Regions from separate parts of the Homo sapiens genome. Here region 1 is linked to region 2. Evidence: fine-mapped expression QTL. A gene starts in region 2. The other region holds a variant in brackets. All regions are shown on one strand. Distances are from middle to middle.

Region 1 (8,325 bases), 24 kb before region 2:
CCACCTTGGCCTCTTAAAGTGCTTGGATTACAGGTGTGAGCCACCACGCCCGGCCTAAACTCCCACTTTTTACATTTCTTGCTCAGTCCTGGAATGGGTCTTTTCCAGAAGCCCTTTTCGTGGTGCAAAATTAGGGTTCAAAGAATACTCGTTGCTATTGGGTTGTCATCGTTTCTGGATCTTCCCAGTGAACAGAGCTAAGAAACACATACTCTTGAAAGAGAAAAAGAAATCACAAGTTCATTCTGATATTTCACGTTCACGTGACACTTACAGTGTTGTTCCTTCCCTTTTCTCTTTCCCTAAAAATTTTGGTTCTTAATACCACTAACATACTCATTTGCATCATACCATTAGATACCAAATAGTTTGAAAACAATATGCCAACATTAACTACTAAGAATAAAACTATATGTGTTGAAACATCACTATGTACCCTATACACATGTACAATTATTGGGTCAAAACAATAAATAAAAGAATAAAATTAGAAAAGGAAGTTTAAGATTTCTTTATAGCTCTCATTTTCCTTTATTATTATTATTTATTTATTTTAGTTTTCTTTTTTGAGACAGAGTCTTGTCCTTTGTCCAGGCTGGAGTGCAGTGGCATGATCTCGGCTCACTGCAACCTCTGCCTCCCAGGTTCAAGCGATCTCTGGATAATTTTTGTATTTTTAATAGAAATGGGATTTCGTCATGTTGGCCAGGCTGGTCTCAAACTCCTGACCTCAGGTGATCCACCCGCCTTGGCCTCCCAAAGTGCTGGGATTACAGGCGTGAGCCACCGTGCTTGGCCTCGTTTTCCTTTAATATGTAGGTCCTCTGTATCCATGGGGGATTGGTTCCAGGATCTGTCTCAGATACCAAAATCCATGGATGCTGAAGTTTTTTTGTTTGTTTGTTTTTGAGACAGGGTCTCGCTCTGTCGCCAGGCTGGAGTGTAGTGGCGTGATCTCTTCTCACTACAACCTCCGCATCCCGGGTTCAAGCAATTCTCCTGCCTCAGCCTCCTGAGTAGCTGGGATTATAAGCATGTGGCACCATGCCCGGCTAATTTTGTATTTTTAGTAGAGACAGGGTTTCTCCATGTTGGCCAGGCTGGTCTTGAACTCCTGACCTCAGGCGATCCACCCACCTCGGCCTCCCAAAGTGCTGGGATTACAGGCGTGAGGCACCACACCTGGCTGCTCACATTTCTGATATACAATAACACAGTAGTGGCCAGGTACGGTAATCACACCTGTAATCCCAGCACTTTGGGAGGCCGAAGTGGGAGCTCAGGAGTTTGAGGCCGGCCTGGGCAACATAGTGAGACCCCATCTCTAAATAAATTACATATTCAAAGAGTTAAATAATAAAATAGCATAGTATTTGCATAGAACCTATGATCACCCTCTCATATACTGTAAGTCATCTCTAGATTACTTGTAATACCTAAAACAATGTAAATGTTATGTAAATAGTTGTTATAGTGTATTGCTTAGGGAATAATGACAAGGAAAAAATTCTGGGCTGGGCAAGGTGGCCCACGCCTGTGGTCCCAGCTACTCAGGAGAGTGAGGTGAGATCGCTTGAGCCCAGGAGTTTGAGGCTACAGTGAGCTATGATTGCGCCACTGTACTTCAGCAAGACCCTGTCTCAAACAAATAAAAAAAAGAATTTTATTTTGGACATTGTGAGGTATGGGGAAAAAAACCAGACCCTGTCTTAAAAAAAAAAAAAAAAAGTCTATACATGTTCAATACAGAGGCAACTTGTTTTCCAAATATTTTCTTTTCTTTTTTCTTTTTTGAGACAGAATTTCCCTTTTGTTGCCCAGGCTGGAGCGCAATGGCGCGATCTCGGCTCACTGCAACCTCCGCCTCCTGGGTTCAAGCGATTCTCCTGCCTCAGCATCCCGAGTAGCTGAGATTACTACCACACCCGGCTAATTTTTTGTATTTTTAGTAGAGATGGGGTTTCACCATGTTGGCCAGGCTGGTCTCGAACTCCTGGCCTCAAGTGATCTGCCCACCTTGTCCTCCCAAAGTGCTGAGATTACAAGCGTGAGCTACTGCGCCCGGCATCCAAATATTTTCAGTCTGAGGTTAGTTGAATTCACAGATGCAGAACTCACGCATATGGAGGACCAACTCTATCCCACTATAGATGCACCATAATAAAAATACAGGGTTGGCCAGGCAACCCTACATAATGAAACCTAACTGAAACAAATGACCCAACTATGTATCTATTGCATTCCTTAATTACACAGAAAATATATATATATATCTTTTTATATGGAGTCTTGCTCTGTCACTCAGGCTGGAGTGCAATGGCACAATCTGGGCTCACTGCAACCTCCGCTTCCTGGGTTCAAGCGATTCTCCTGCCTCAGCCTCCCAAGTAGCTGGGATTAAAGGCACGCACCACCACACCCAGCTAATTTTGTATTTTTAGTAGAGATGGGGTTTCACCATGTTGGTTAGGCTGGTCTCGAACTCCTGACCTCAAGTGATCTGCCCATCTTGGCCTCCCAAAGTGCTGGGATTACAGGCGTGAGCCACCGTGCCCAGTCAGAAAATAATTATTTCAAATGACCTTGTATCCTTTTTTTTCCCCCCCACTCAGAAGGCTGAGGCGGGAGGATCACTTGAGTTGGGTAGTTCAAGGCCCCAGTGAGCTATGGTCACGCCACTGCACTCTATCTAGCCTGGGTGACAAAAGTAGACCTTGTCTGAAAAAAACCCAAAAACCCATAACCAGCATTCACAAGAGGTTTGGGCACAGATACAACAATGGTTAGACCTGGCTGTCTGGGGATTCCTCACGCTATCCTCTTCTGTGTGCGTTTGCAGTATTTCATTACATCAACTTCTTTTCTCTGTTGTCCAGACTGGAGTGCAGTGGTGTCATCTTGGCTCACTGAAATCTCTGCTTCCTGGGTCAAGCGATTCTCCTGCTTCAGTCTCCTGAGTAGCTGGGTCTGCAGGCGTGCACCACCATGCCAGGATAATTTTTATATTTTTAATAGAGACGGGGTTTCACCATGTTGGCCAGGCTGGTCTCAAACTCGTGACCTCAAACGATCTGCCCGCCTCGGCCTCCCTAAGTGCTGGGATGACAGGCCTGAGCCACCATGCCAGCCTGTTTTTTTGTTTTTTTTAACTTTGCCATATATCCATCCAGAATATCTCACATCAGTGTCAAGAGATATTCCTTGTTTCTTTTTTTACAGCTGTGTAGTATTCCATTGTGTGGCCACGCCATTGTATATTCAGCTAATCTCCTATGGGCAATAAATTACTTTCAATCCTTTGCCACTACAGACAATGCCACATTAAATAATAACCTTTGCATGTCATTTCACCTTTTTGCTAGTATCCTTGAAATAGATTAGGAGTGGAATTGCTGGATTAAAGAGAAATGCATAATTTTGCTAGCCATCACCAGATTCCTCTTCATTTTACATTTACAGTGAGACCTACAGAACATGCTGCCAAGGTTTTGGATTTTTGTCAACCTGTGTAGGTGAGAAGTGGTATTTCAGTGTGGTTGTAATGAGCATTTCTCTGGCTACAATTGAGTTTTAATATCTTTTGCAAAGTTTAAGGGCCAAGCTGGGCACAGGGACACATACCTGTAGTCCTAGCTATTCAGGAGGCTGAGGTGGGAGATCGCTTGAGCCCAGGAGTTCAGGGCTGCAGTGAGCTATGATCTTGCCACTACACTCCAGCCCAGGCAACAGAGTGAGACCCTGTCTCTAAAAATACAAAAAGTTTGAAAGGTGTTTTGTTGTCTTCTTCAGTAAACTCTTTCTCTCTCTCTCTCTCTCTATATATATATATATATATATTTTTTTTTTTTTTCTGACAGGTTGTTGGCTTTTTCCTTTCTTCTTTTCTTTTCTTTTTTTTTGAGGCAGAGTCTTGCTGTGTTGCCCAGGCTGGAGTGCAGTGGTGTGATCTCTGCTCACTGCAACCTCTGCCTCCCGGGTTCAAGCGATTCTCCTGCTTCAGCCTCCCGAGTTGCTGGGACTATAGGCGTGCACCACCACGCCCGGATAATTTTCGTATTTTTAGTAGAGATGGGGTTTCACTGTGTTGGCCAGGTTGGGCTGGAACTCCTCACCTCAAGTGATCCACCCACCTCAGCCTCCCAAAGTGCTGGGATTACAGGCGTGAGCCATCATGCTTGGCCATTGCATCACATTTGGATCACATGACAATTATAAACTAGTTTGGGAAGACTCAGCTCCTTTATAATGTTGAGTCTTTCTATCCAAGAATATATATCTGATCCTTCTGTGCAAGTATCCTTTTGAGTCACTTAAGAATATTTTACTTTTTAGGC[T/C]GGGCGCGGTGGCTCATGCCTGTAATCCCAGCACTTTGGGAGGCTGAGGTGGGCAGATCACCTGAGCTCAGGAGTTCGAGACTACCCTGGCCAACATGGCGAAACCCCGTTCCTACTAAAAATACAAAAATTAGCTGGGCGTGGTGGTGGCTGCCTGTAATCCCAGCTACTTGGGAAGCTGAGGCAGGAGAATTGCTTGAACCTGGGAGACGGAGGTTGCGGCGAGCCGAGATCGCGCCACCGCACTCCAGCCTGGTTGACAGAGCAAGACTCTGTTTCAAGGAAAAAAAAAAAAAAAAGAGGAGGAAAAAAGTATTAGAACCATATTTGCTTGCAGTGTGCATGCCTCATAGCTTTCGAAGGAGACACAGGAGCAGGTAACTAGGCTGCCTCCAGGGAGAGTGACCCTGGGTGGTTGGAGATGGCGAGATGCTTCACTGTGTGTGTGTGTGTGTTTGGCAGTGAATGTCCTGTCCTCTCCAAAAAGTAAATACGTAAAACTTGAGCTAGAAAAATAAAACAAGGTTGGGCATGGTGGCTCACGCCTATAATCCCAGCACTGTGGGAGGCCAAGACGGGAGGATCACCTGAGGTTAGGAGTTCGAGACTAGCCTGACCAACATGGCAAAATCCCGTCTCTACTAAAAGTACAAAAATCAGCTGGGTGTGGTGGTGTGCACCTGTAATGCCAGCTACTTGGGAGGCTGAGCCAGGAGAATTGCTTGAACCTGGGAGGAGGTGGTTGCCGTGAGCTGAGATCGTGCTATTGCACTCCAGCCTGTGCGACAGAGTGGGACTCCATCTCAATAAATAAATAAATAAATAAATAAATAAATAAATAAATAAATAAAACAGACCAGGGTGGCCTGATTATTCCTTACGTGCCCAAATAAATAAATAAATAAATAAATAAATAAATAAATAAAACAGACCAGGGTGGCCTGATTATTTCTTACCTGCCCACGTAATCCTAGATACCTGGTTTCTGGGGAAGCCGGGGTTCTGGAGCCACTGTGCCTGGTCCCTCCACACCCAGCCCCCTTGTTCGGGTTCCTAGGTGGGCCAGGCCCCCAGCGTCGTCATCGTGTTTGACTGCTCCATGGAGACGATGCTCCGACGAGTGCTACACTGGGGCCAGGTGGAGCACCGGGCAGACGACTCGGAGCTGGCCATCCACCAGCGCTTGGACACGCACTATACCTTGTGTGAGCCGGTCTTGACCTACCAGCGCAATAACCTGCTCTGAAACGTAGGTGCTCCCCGCTTCTGGCTCACTGCACCCCAACCCCTAGGGAACAAGTCTGGCTTTAACAGTCCAGGGTCACCCGGGCCTGGTCCTCGCTTTCCTACCAGGTAACCTGGGGGATTCCCATTCCCCCAGGAAATGCCTTGAGAACCCAGCCTTGGCTCACGTGGGAAGGCAATGGGACACTGGTGGGGCCTCCCTGCACGCCCTCACACAGCAGTCAGCAACACAAGCTTTCCTGACCCTGTCCCCTCTCCCTTCACGTGCATGCCTCTGGGATTTTCCCAGGGTCTGAGCGGGAGAGGGTGGTGTCCCTGCCGTGGGGCCCAGACCTGACCCCTGCGGCTCCCCTTTCTCTAGATCCCGGCAGAAGCAGCACCAGAGAACATCTTTGCCAAGTGCTGCTCTGTCATTGAGAGTCTGCAGTGAGACAGAGGGGCTGGGGGTGGGCCTTGCCCCTCACCGGAACCCGTGCAGTACGTGGGAAGGGTGCGTACCTAGGAGGTGAGACCTCCAGAAAGGGGGACCGATGCCCCCTGTGATTCCAGAGCAACAGGTTCCCTTTCCCGGGGTCTGTTTCCCCACCAGGGAGGTTGGCCAGGGGCCACCAAGGAACATGCCCCACTGGGCCAGGTGCCTGGCACACCTGCATGGGTCAGGGGACTGTCAACAGCCCCCCCTAGAGGCCACAGCTGTTACTGGCTCCTGCCGGGGCTATCACCAGGCCCATGAGCCCAGGACATCTAAGATGAAGCGAGTTTTAAACGCTGGCATTCAGCCACAACCTCAGAGACCCTGCAGCTGCATGCGGGGCTGCAAGACACCTGCCCAGGTCCAAACAGCTTGGGTGGCCCCTCGGTGCCCTCTCCCACCTCACATCCGGTCCCATCACCCAGCGAGCACTGACGCGGGCCTGGCTCCCACCTCAGGGCTCTGAACGTTAACAGGCCAGAGGACCTCCTGTAGCAACAGCCCATCCATGGGAACGCCGGTCCCTGAGGCCCTCCTGAGCGCCTTGCTCCCCAAGGTGCTGGAGGGAAACTGGGTAGGGGAAGACAGCAGTGCTGGGCTCAGCCAGCCTCCCCTTCCCACATGGGAAGGGGAAAGTCTTGGGGGGCCACACCCCACTCTAATTGGCTGAGACTTGCTCAACTTGTTTCCTCTCACAAACACAACTGCGGCCAGCACGCAGTCTTTTTTAAACAAAAAGCACTTTATTTAACAAAAAAAAAAAAGGGGGGGGGGCACGGTTAGGAAAGCACATTGAGCCTGAAGAAAACTATTTTATATTTTTCTTAAAAAAAAAAAAACACAAAGTTTGTAAATTTCAATCACCATTATCAGGCTTTTTAAACAACATCTATAAAGAACAAACATCCGCTTCAAAACTACAGGGAGGGAAGGAAAGGGGGGGAGACAGACAGCACCCGCAGACGGGGAGGTTTTGTTATCATTTATTTGTGAAGTTAAAAACGAGCGATAAAAAGTAAAAACTGCCATACAATTTTTTTTGTTGTTCTCATTTTGTTTTCAGTTTCAATCTCCTCTTGAACAGATGAAAAGACAACAGACCAGTCCTGGGAGGGGGGACGGGCGGGGCCGCGGGAGCTGAGCCAGGGCGGGAGGGAGAGAAGAGGGGGCTTGGCTGCTGGGGGAAGGGGTCCTGCAATACAACACCTGGTCCAAGGAATGTTCCACCTCTAACTAAAAAAAAGAAATAGCAAGAGTGACTTTTTTTTTTCCTTTTTAAAAGTTTATTTTAAAAACAAGAGGGCCGAGGGTGGGAGAAAATGAATTGCTTTATCCTCAGAGAGGCAGGTTCAGGAAGGCTGGGGGGTGAAGAATAGAGACTTTTTAATATATATATATATAATTTTATAAGTTCTGCTTTGCTCTTTGTGTTTTTAATTTTTAAGTTTTTTTTTTTTTTTGGCAGAGATTTAGATCTCGCTATCTTCTCTGGCTGGCTCAACATGGAAGGATCCCAATTTTGAAAGAAAAAGCATGTGAGACACAGAACAGGCGAGAGAGTGAGGGCCCGGCATGCCCCCAAGTCCCCCCCACCCTGCTTGCCGCGAGGGCTCCCCAGTACTCCCCACGGCAGCCATCGCTCTCTCGCCAAACAAAACAGAAGCCCCCAAACAGAACAAAATGGAAAAAAAAAAGATTTTTCACAGATGAAGAAGTTCACATTCATTCGATTCATTGAGCCTGCGGAGAGGGAAGAGATAGGAATTGGTCACTACGGGGAGGGAAGGGTGGGAGACTAGGGGGCGGAAGAGAGGAGGGGCTGGAACACCGTGGGGGGGGCCAGGAAGCCCCCTCCCAAACCTGCGCTGGCTCAGGCTGGAAGGACGTGCTTGTTAACTGTCTAGCCAGGTGCTCGCGGGACTCGCTGAAGTCACGCTGCTCCCTGATGGAGAAGGAGGGACAGAGCAGGAAGAGAGGAGAGGGGCCGCGGAGGGCGGAGGCGCTAGGGTCGTAGGGGAGCTGCCCTGTCTCCGGAGGGCGGTGGCTCCCGGCGCAGCACGACGACATGAACAATCCAGAGATCATGGTGTCCCCACAACACCCCTGTGAGGTAGGTTGGAAGGTGGCAACGATCTTCACGCCCACTTCACAGACAAGCCCGGGACACAGGCAAGCGCGAGCGCATGGGAGGCTGAGCCCGGCGGGGCAGGGGCCTGGGCCGCTCCCCGCGTCCCCACCAGTCCCTGCCAGAGCCAGGCCGCCTGCAACACAGTC
Region 2 (8,328 bases):
GGTCTGGAGGGTGAGTGTGTGCTTGAACAAGGGCCTGGAGTTTTGGGGGCATGGGAGGGGTTTGGGCTTGAGCTGGGGGAAGCAGGCCCCTCATTCCCCACCTGCTCGAATACGGAGAACTTGATGGCATACTCAGGAGCAATCTTGAGCACGTTGATGCCGTTGCCCCGCCACAGGGAGCGGAAGCCGCCCTCCTGGACCATGCTCTGTAGCCCCCCCAGCAGGTTGGTGAAGTTCGTCTTGGAGGAGTAGACCTGGGTGGAGGGAGGACCCTGGAGGAGCCCCTGCTCGCCTCTGTCTCCGTCCCCATCCCTGCCCCAAGCGCAGCCCCACCGGGACCTCCCAAGCCACCCAACCCCAACCCATCCCCATCCCATCCCCATTCCTTCTTCAGCTCCTTCCCCGGCCAGTTCTAGAATCGCATGCAACCCTGACCCAAAGCCAACATCAACCTACATTCCCACCTCACCCCTCCTCTTCATCTCCTCAGTCTTTTTCTCTCTCTCTTTCTTCCTTCCATCCTTTCCTTTCTTTCTCCCTTTTTGTTCCCTCCCTCCCTCCCTTCCTCCGTTCCTCCCTTCCTTCTTTTTTTTTTTTTTTGACGGAGTCTCACTCTGTCGCCCAGGCTGGAGTGCGGTCGGGGGATCTCGGCTCACTGCAACCTCCGCCTCCCAGGTTCAGGCGATTCTCCTGCCTCAGCCTCCCGAGTAGCTGGGATTACAGGCTAGTGTCACCACGCCTGGCTTATTTTTGTATTTTTAGTAGAGCTGGGGGTTTGCCATGTTGGCCAGGCTGGTCTGGAACTCCTGACCTCAGGTGATCTGCCCACCTTGGCCCCCCAAATTGCTGGGATTACAGGCATCAGCCACCGCGCCTGGCCTTCTTTTCCTTTTCTTTCTTGTTTTTTTGTTTGTTTATGTTTTCGAGACAGGATCTTGTTCTGTTGCCCAGGCCGGAATGCAGTGGTGCAATCACAGCTCACTGCAGCCCCAAACTCCTGGGCTCAAGTGATCCTCCCACCTCAGCCTTCCAAGTAGCTGGGACTACAGGTGCGTGCTACCATGGCAGGCTAATTTTGTAAAATTTTTTGTATAGATGGGGTCTTACTATGTTGCCCAGGCTGGTCTCAAACTCTTGGGCTCAAGCGATCTTCCCACTTTGGCCTCCCAAAGTGCTGGGATTACAGGTGTGAGTCACCATGCCCGACTCCTTTTTAAATTTTTAATTAATTAATTAATTAATTATTATTTTGTAGAGATGTGGTCTGACTATATTGCCCAGCTGGTCTCAAACTCCTAAGCTCAAGTAATCCTCCCTCCTTGGCCTCCCAAAGTGAGCCACTGCACCCGTTTATTTTTTCAGCCAGGGATCTCGCTCTGTCACCCAGGCTGGAGTTTGTGGCATGATCATGGCTCACTGCAGCCTCCAACTCCTGGGCTCAAGCAATCCTCCTGCCTCAGCCTCCTGAGCAGCTGAGACTATGGGTGTGAGATATCCTGCTTGAGGTAGCTCCAGTTCTATGTTGCCTTTTTTTTTTTTCTTTCTTTTTTGAGACAGAGTCTCACTCTGTTGCCCAGGCTGGAGTGCAGTGATGCAATCTCGGCTCACTGCAACCTCCATCTCCTGGGTTCAAGCAATTCTCCTGCCTCAGCCTCCTATGTAGCTGGGACTACAGGCACGCACCACCATGCCCGACTAATTTTTTTGTATTTTTAGTAGAGACAGGGTTTCGCCATGTTGGCCAGGCTGGTCTCAAACTCCTGACCCCAGATGATCTACCTCCCCTGGGCCTCCCAAAGTGCTGGCATTAGAGGCATGAGCCACTGCACCTGGCCCCTACCTTGTCTTTAAACTCGTCCAAAGACCCCATCCCCAATTCCCTGACCTCCAACCCCCACCTTGGCCCAGCGTTGGTCCCTGTCCCTGGCAAGTTCTCTCAACTCCTCAAACTCGACTCCAAGCCATGTCCACACCAGCTCTATCACCATCCACAACCTCAATCTCAGCTAGTCCAGGAGAGCCCAACTCCAGCCAGCACTCCTATCCTGAACTCCATCCACGTCAACTCCATCTGTCCTCACCCCACGTTCTCCCCAGTGGCTCCAGCGCTGGGTCCCGTCCTCCCCCCAACCCACACAAACCTGCATGTACACCTTGGCTCTGTCCAGAGGTGCCGTGCCCGTGCGAGACACCGCCCCGGCCATAGCTCCTGAGAGTAGAAACTTCCACAAGGCCTCCTTGTTATCCACTTCCAGGACTTCCACGGGGACCATCAGCTGCTCTCCTGTGTCCAGTACCTGCAGGGCAGACCCGGCCCTCCCTCATCCTCAGCCAGGTTGGGGCACCTTCCCCAGACACACATCTAGGGCACCCACCTGGTGAAAGACCCACCCTGTTCCCCCAAGTCTGCATTTTTTTTTTTCGAGACGGAGTCTTGCTCTGCTGCCCAGGTTAGAGTGCAGTGGCACAATCTCAGCTCGTTGCAACCTCCACCTCCCAGGTTCAAGCAGTTCCTGCCGCAGCCTCCTGAGTAGCTGGGATTATAGGCATGCACCACAACACCTAATTTTTTTTTTTTTTTTTTTTTTTTTTTTTAGTAGAGATGGGTTTCACTATGTTGGCCAGGCTGGTCTCTAACTCCTGACCTCAAGTGATTCAACCCTCCCCCCTGGTTTTTTTTTGTTTTGTTTTTGTTTTTTTTTAGACAGAGTCTCACTCTATCGCCCAAGCTGGAGTACAGTGGTGCGATCTTGGCTCACTGCAACCGCTGTCCCCCTGGTTCAAGCGATTCTCGTGTCTCAGCTTCCCAAGTAGGGACAATGGTGTGATCTCGGCTCACTGCAACCTCCGCCTCCTGGGTTCAAGTGATTCTCTTGCCTCAGCCTCCCCAGTAGCTGGGATTACAGTGCCAACGTGCCGAGCAAATTTTTGTATTATTTTAATAGAGGCAGGGTTTCACCATGTTGGCCAGGCTGGTCTTGAACTCCTGACCTCAGGTGATCCACCTGCCTCAGCCTCCCAAAGTGCTGGGATTACAGGTGTGAGCCACCACACCCAGCCAATGTAATATAGACTCTCTAAGTTACTCATGGAGGATCCAAGGAGGAATACAAATGTAATTAGGACTATATCTAGACTCTTAATTTATTCTTATTTTTTGAGACAGAATCTCGCTGTGTTGCTCTGGCTTGAGTGCAGTGATGAGATCTGGGCTCACTGCAACCTCTACCTCCTGAGTTCAAGCGATTCTCCTGCCTCAGCCTCCTGAGTAGCTGGTACTACAGGCGCCAACCACCATGCCTGGCTAAGTTTTGTAATTTTAGTAGAGATAGGGTTTCGGCATGTTGGCCAGGTTGGTCTTGAACTCCTGTCCTCAAGTGACCCATCCACCTCAACCTCCCAAAGTGCTGGGATTACATGTGTGGAGCCATCGCGCCCTGCCTCCCTGCCCCACCCTGCTTCAAGGTGGAATTCTAGGTCCGCTAGCAGGGGAGTGGGCCTGTAGAGGGCGTGGGTAGCCTGGCCTCTCCCTGTAGTCCTGACCAGAGGTGCCGGGACACTGGTGTTTCCTAAACTCACCTGCTGTGACGGGAGATGTTCAAGGTTGTTGTCATGCATGTGGCCAAACGCGTACCCATACACGTGTGTACAGCCAGGGTTCCAGGATGGGGGTGGAGGCGGAGGTTGGGGGGGAGGCGGGGCTTTGATGAGTAAGGTCTTGACCCTCCTAAACAGTGTCTGGATCCTAGAGCAAGTGTTCTGAGGTTCCCCAGGCTGAGCGCCCATGGAGGAAGTTAGGACACCTGGCTTCAAATCCCTAAGCAGTTGTTTGCTGCTCCAGCTACCATGCGGGAGTGTCTAGTGGGAGGATTGTGTGGGGGACCAAGAGGAGGATGAAGTCACAAACGCCCCTGTGACCTTCCTAGGTGTGGTGGGCAGCGTGATGGCCCCCTTCCCCCAAGTATCCACCTCCTGATCCCCCAAACCAATAAATATGTTATCGTTATAAATTGAATTGTGTCCTGTCAAAATTATTATTATTATCGTTTTTTTTGAGACGGAGTCTCGCTCAGTCTCCCAGGCTGGAGTGCAGTGGCGCTATCTTGGCTCACTGCAAGCTCCGCCTCTGGGGTTCACACCATTCTCCTGCCTCAGCCTCCCGAGTAGCTGGGACTACAGGCATCCGCCACCACGCCCAGCTAATTTTTTTATTTTTTAGTAGAGACGGGGTTTCACCGTGTTAGCCAGGATGGTCTCGATCTCCTGACCTCATGATCTGCCCACCTCAGCCTCCCAAAGTGCTGGGATTACAGGCGTGAGCCACTGCTTCCGGCCGCAAAATTCTTATGTTGAAGCCCTATTTCCCAGTGGGTTGGAATTTGGAGACAGGGCCTTTGGGAGGTCCTCAGGGTTAGATGAACTCATGAGGATGGCCCCTGCAAGATGGAATTAGTTCCCTATAAGGAAAAGACAAACCAGAGCTCTTTCTCTCTCTCTGTCTGCCATGGGAGGACGCAGCAAGAAGGCATGGCAGGAAGAAATCCCTCAGCAGGAACTGAGCTAGCCAGCCACCTTAACCTTGGATTTCCCAGCCTCCAGAAATAAATGTCTGCAGTTTAAGACCCCGCTCTTTAGTGTTTCCTTATAGCAGCCTGGGCTGACTTACATTTGTTACATGGCAAAGGGGAATTAAGTTTGCAGATACAAATAAGGTTGCTAGGCCTGATGTGGTGGCTGACGCCTGTAATCCCAGCACTTTGGGAGGCCGAGGTTGGCAGATCATCTGAGGTCAGGAGTTCGAGACCAGCCTGACTAACATAGTGAAACCCAGTCTCTCCTAAAAATACAAAAATTAGCCAGGTTTGGTGGTGTGCCCCTGTAATCTCAGCTACTCTGGAGGCTGAGACAGGAGAATTGCTTGAACCCAGGAGACAGAGGTTGCAGTGGGCCGAGATTGAGCCATTGCACTGCAGCCTGGGCAACAGAGCGAGACTCCATCTCAAACAAACAACAACAACAACAAAACTTTGCTAGGCTGGGCGCCGTGGCTCATTCCTATAATAGCAGCACTTTGGGAGGTCAAGGCAGGTGGATCACTTGAGCCCAGGAGTTCAAGACCACCCTGGGCAACATGGCCAGACCCCTGTCTCTATAAAAAATACAAAAATTAGCTGGGCATGGTGGTCCATGCCTGTGGTCCCAGCTACACAGGAGGCTGAGGTGGGAGGGTTGCTTGAGCTTGGGAGGTGGAGGCTGCAGTGAGCTGAGATCTTGCCACTGAACTCCAGCCTGGGTGACAGAGCGAGACCCTGTCTCAAAAAAAAAAAAAAGAAAAAAAAAAAAAGAATTAAGGTTGCTAAACAGCTGATGGGAAATGGTCTCACTCTGTCACCCAGGCTGGAGTATAGTGGCACACTTAAGGTCAATCCCCTTGACCTCTCTGTTCAGGTGGTTCTCCCACTTCAGCCACCCGAGTGGCTAGGAACACAGGTGCGGACACCACGCCCGGCTAAGTTTTAAAAATTATTTTTGGCTGGGCGTGGTGGCTCACACCTGTAATTCTAGCACTTTGGGAGGCCAAGGCAGGTGGATCACCTGAGGTCAGGAGTTTGAGACCAGCCTGGCCAACATGATAAAACCCCGTGTCTACTAAAAATAACGAAAATTAGCTGGGTGTGGTGGTGCATACCTGTAATCCCAGCTACTCAGGAGGCTGAGGCGGGAGGATCACTTGAGTCCAGGAGTTCAAGACCAGCCTGGGCAGCAAAGCAAGAAATTTTTCTACAAAAATTTTTTAAAATTAGCCAGGTGTGGTCATGTGCACCTGTAGTCCCAGCTACTTGGGAGGCTGAAGGGGGAGGCTCCCTTGAGCACAGGAATTAGAGGCTGCAGTGAGCTATGATTGTGCCACTGCACTCCAGCCTGGGTGACAGAGTAAGACCCAGTCTCTAAAAAACAAAAAAAGTAGTCAGGCATGGTGGTGTGTGCCTGTGGTCCCAGCTACTCCGGAGGCTGAGATGGGAGCATCACCTGAGCCTGGGAGTTTGAAGCTGCAGTGAGCCATGATTGCACCCCTGCATTCCAGCCTGGGGAGGGGACAGAGTGAAACCCTGTTTCAAAAACCAAAACCGAAACCAAACAAACAAACAAACAAAAAACCTGACAAAATCATATACATGTAGGTATATATGTATTAGCCAGCTGTTGCCATGTGACGAATTACCCCCCCGCCAAAGGTTGGCAGCTTAACACAACAAACATTTATCATCTCACCCATATTCTGAGCATTAGGAACTCAGGAGCCGCTGAGCCGGCTGTTCCCGTGATCAGTGTTTGAAGTATAAGAGTCTAAGATTCAGGATTCAGGTACTGGGATCCAGTTGTTTCGGTGGAGGGATCCACAAAGCTTGGACTATCCAGGGAATTCAACTGATAGAATTGCAGTGAGATGTTGGCCAGGACAGCAAGATCCTCTTCCAAGCTCAGTTACATGGCTATTGGCTGAGTTCCTTACCACATGGTCCTCTCCATAAGGCTGCTCATGGCATGACCACCGGCTTCCTCCAGAGCAAATGTTATGAGAAAGGGGGAGAGAGAGAGAGAGAGCATGTAACCAATAACCAGGATGGCAGCGACAGTGTCTTTTTTTTTTTTTCTTTGAGACATAGTTTTGCTCTTGTTGCCCAGGCTGGAGTGCAGTGGCACAATCTCGACTCACTGCAACCTCTGCCACCCAGGTTCAAGCAATTCTCCTGCCTCAGCCTCCTGAGTAGCTGGGATTATAGGTGCCCGCCACCACGTCCGGCTAATTTTTGTACTTCTAGTAGAGACGGGGTTGCCATGTTGGCCAGGCTGGTCTCGAACTCCTGACCTCAGGTGATTCACCCGCCTCGGCCTCCCAAAATGCTAGGATTATAGACGTGAGCCACTGCACCCAATCTTTTATTTTTTTATTTTTTGAGATGGAGTCTTGCTCTGTTACCCAGGCTGGAGTGCAATGGACCAATCTTGGCTCACTGCAACCTCCACCTCCTGGGTTCAAGTGATTGTCCTGCCTCAGCCTTCCGAGTAGCTGGGATCACAGGCATGTGACACCATGCCCGGCTAATTTTTGTATTTTTAGTAGAGACGGGGTTTCACCATGTTGGCCAGGCTGGTCTCAAACTCCTGGGCTCAAGTGACCTTGAACTCCTGAGCTCAAGTCATCCTCCCATCTCAGCCTCCTGAGCAGCTGGAACTACAGGTATATGCCATCATGCCCAGCTAATTGAAAAATTTTTTGTAGAAATGGGGTCTCACTGTGTTGCCCAGGCTGGTCTCAAACTCCTGGCCTCAAGCGATCCTCCCACCCCGACCTCCCAAAGTGCTGGGTTTACAGATATGAGCTACCCCACCCACCCTGAATTTTCTATTTTTTCCACAATAAATTTGAATTACTCATTGTGGGTTGAACTTTGTCCCCCAAAAAGATGTGTTCAAGCCCTAACCCCAGTAACCTGCAAATGTGACCTTATTTGGAAATACGGTCTTTGTAGATATAATCAAATTAAAATGAGGTTACACTGGATTGGGGGGGGTTGCCCTAATCCGATGACTGCTGTCCTTACAAGACATGGAATCGGCCAGGCGCAGTGGCTCACGCCTGTAATCCCAACACTTTGGGAGGCTGAGGCAGGCGGATCACGAGGTCAGGAGTTCAAGACCATCCTGGCTAACATGGTGAAACCCCGTCTCTACTAAAAATACAAAAAATTAGCTGGGCATGGTGGCGGGTGCCTGTAGTCCCAGCTACTTGGGAGGCTGAGGCAGGAGAATGGCATGAACCCAGGAGGCGGAGCTTGCAGTGAGCCAAGATCGCGCCAGTGCACTCCAGCCTAGGCGACAGAGCAAGACTCCATCTCAGAAAAAAAAAAAGGCCGGGCGCGGTGGCTCATGCCTATAATCCCAGCACTTTGGGAGGCATCCTGGCTAACATGGTGAAACCCCATCTCTACTAAAAATACAAAAAAAAAAAAAAATTAGCTGGCTGTGGTGGCGGGTGCCTGTAGTCCCAGCTACTTGGGAGGCTGAGGCAAGAGAATGGCATGAACCCGGGAGGCGGAGCTTGCAGTGAGCCGAGATCGTGCCACTGCACTCCAAAAAAAAAAAAAAAAACAAACTTGGAATTTGCACTTTGGGAGGCCGAGGCGGGTGGATCACTTGAGGTCAGGAGTTCAAGACCAGCATAGTGAAACCCCGTCTCTACTAAAAATGCAAAAATTAGCCAGTTGTGGTGGTGTGCACCTGTAATCCCAGCTATTCTGGAGGCTGAGGCAGGAGGATCACTTG

Evidence for each region.
Region 1: its variant is fine-mapped to the expression of SLC25A41 in whole blood (TOPMed, PIP above 0.99).

What each region holds. Positions count from the first base shown.
Region 1 is chr19:6,406,330-6,414,654 of GRCh38, forward strand. It overlaps KHSRP (KH-type splicing regulatory protein), which reads right to left. Exons shown (of 19, transcript NM_001366299.1): 19 at 6,773-8,325. It also overlaps the pseudogene LOC390877. Among named protein-coding and RNA genes, the nearest start is that of MIR3940, 6.0 kb to the right of the region's middle. RefSeq lists enhancers at 5,368-6,192, 6,193-7,017. The variant T/C (reference allele first, on the strand shown) is at 4,335.
Region 2 is chr19:6,429,908-6,438,235 of GRCh38, forward strand. It overlaps SLC25A41 (solute carrier family 25 member 41), which reads right to left and starts at 3,856. Exons shown (of 7, transcript NM_173637.4): 1 at 3,580-3,856; 2 at 2,142-2,297; 3 at 102-254. The coding sequence starts at 3,786. It also overlaps a transcript of SLC25A23 not described here.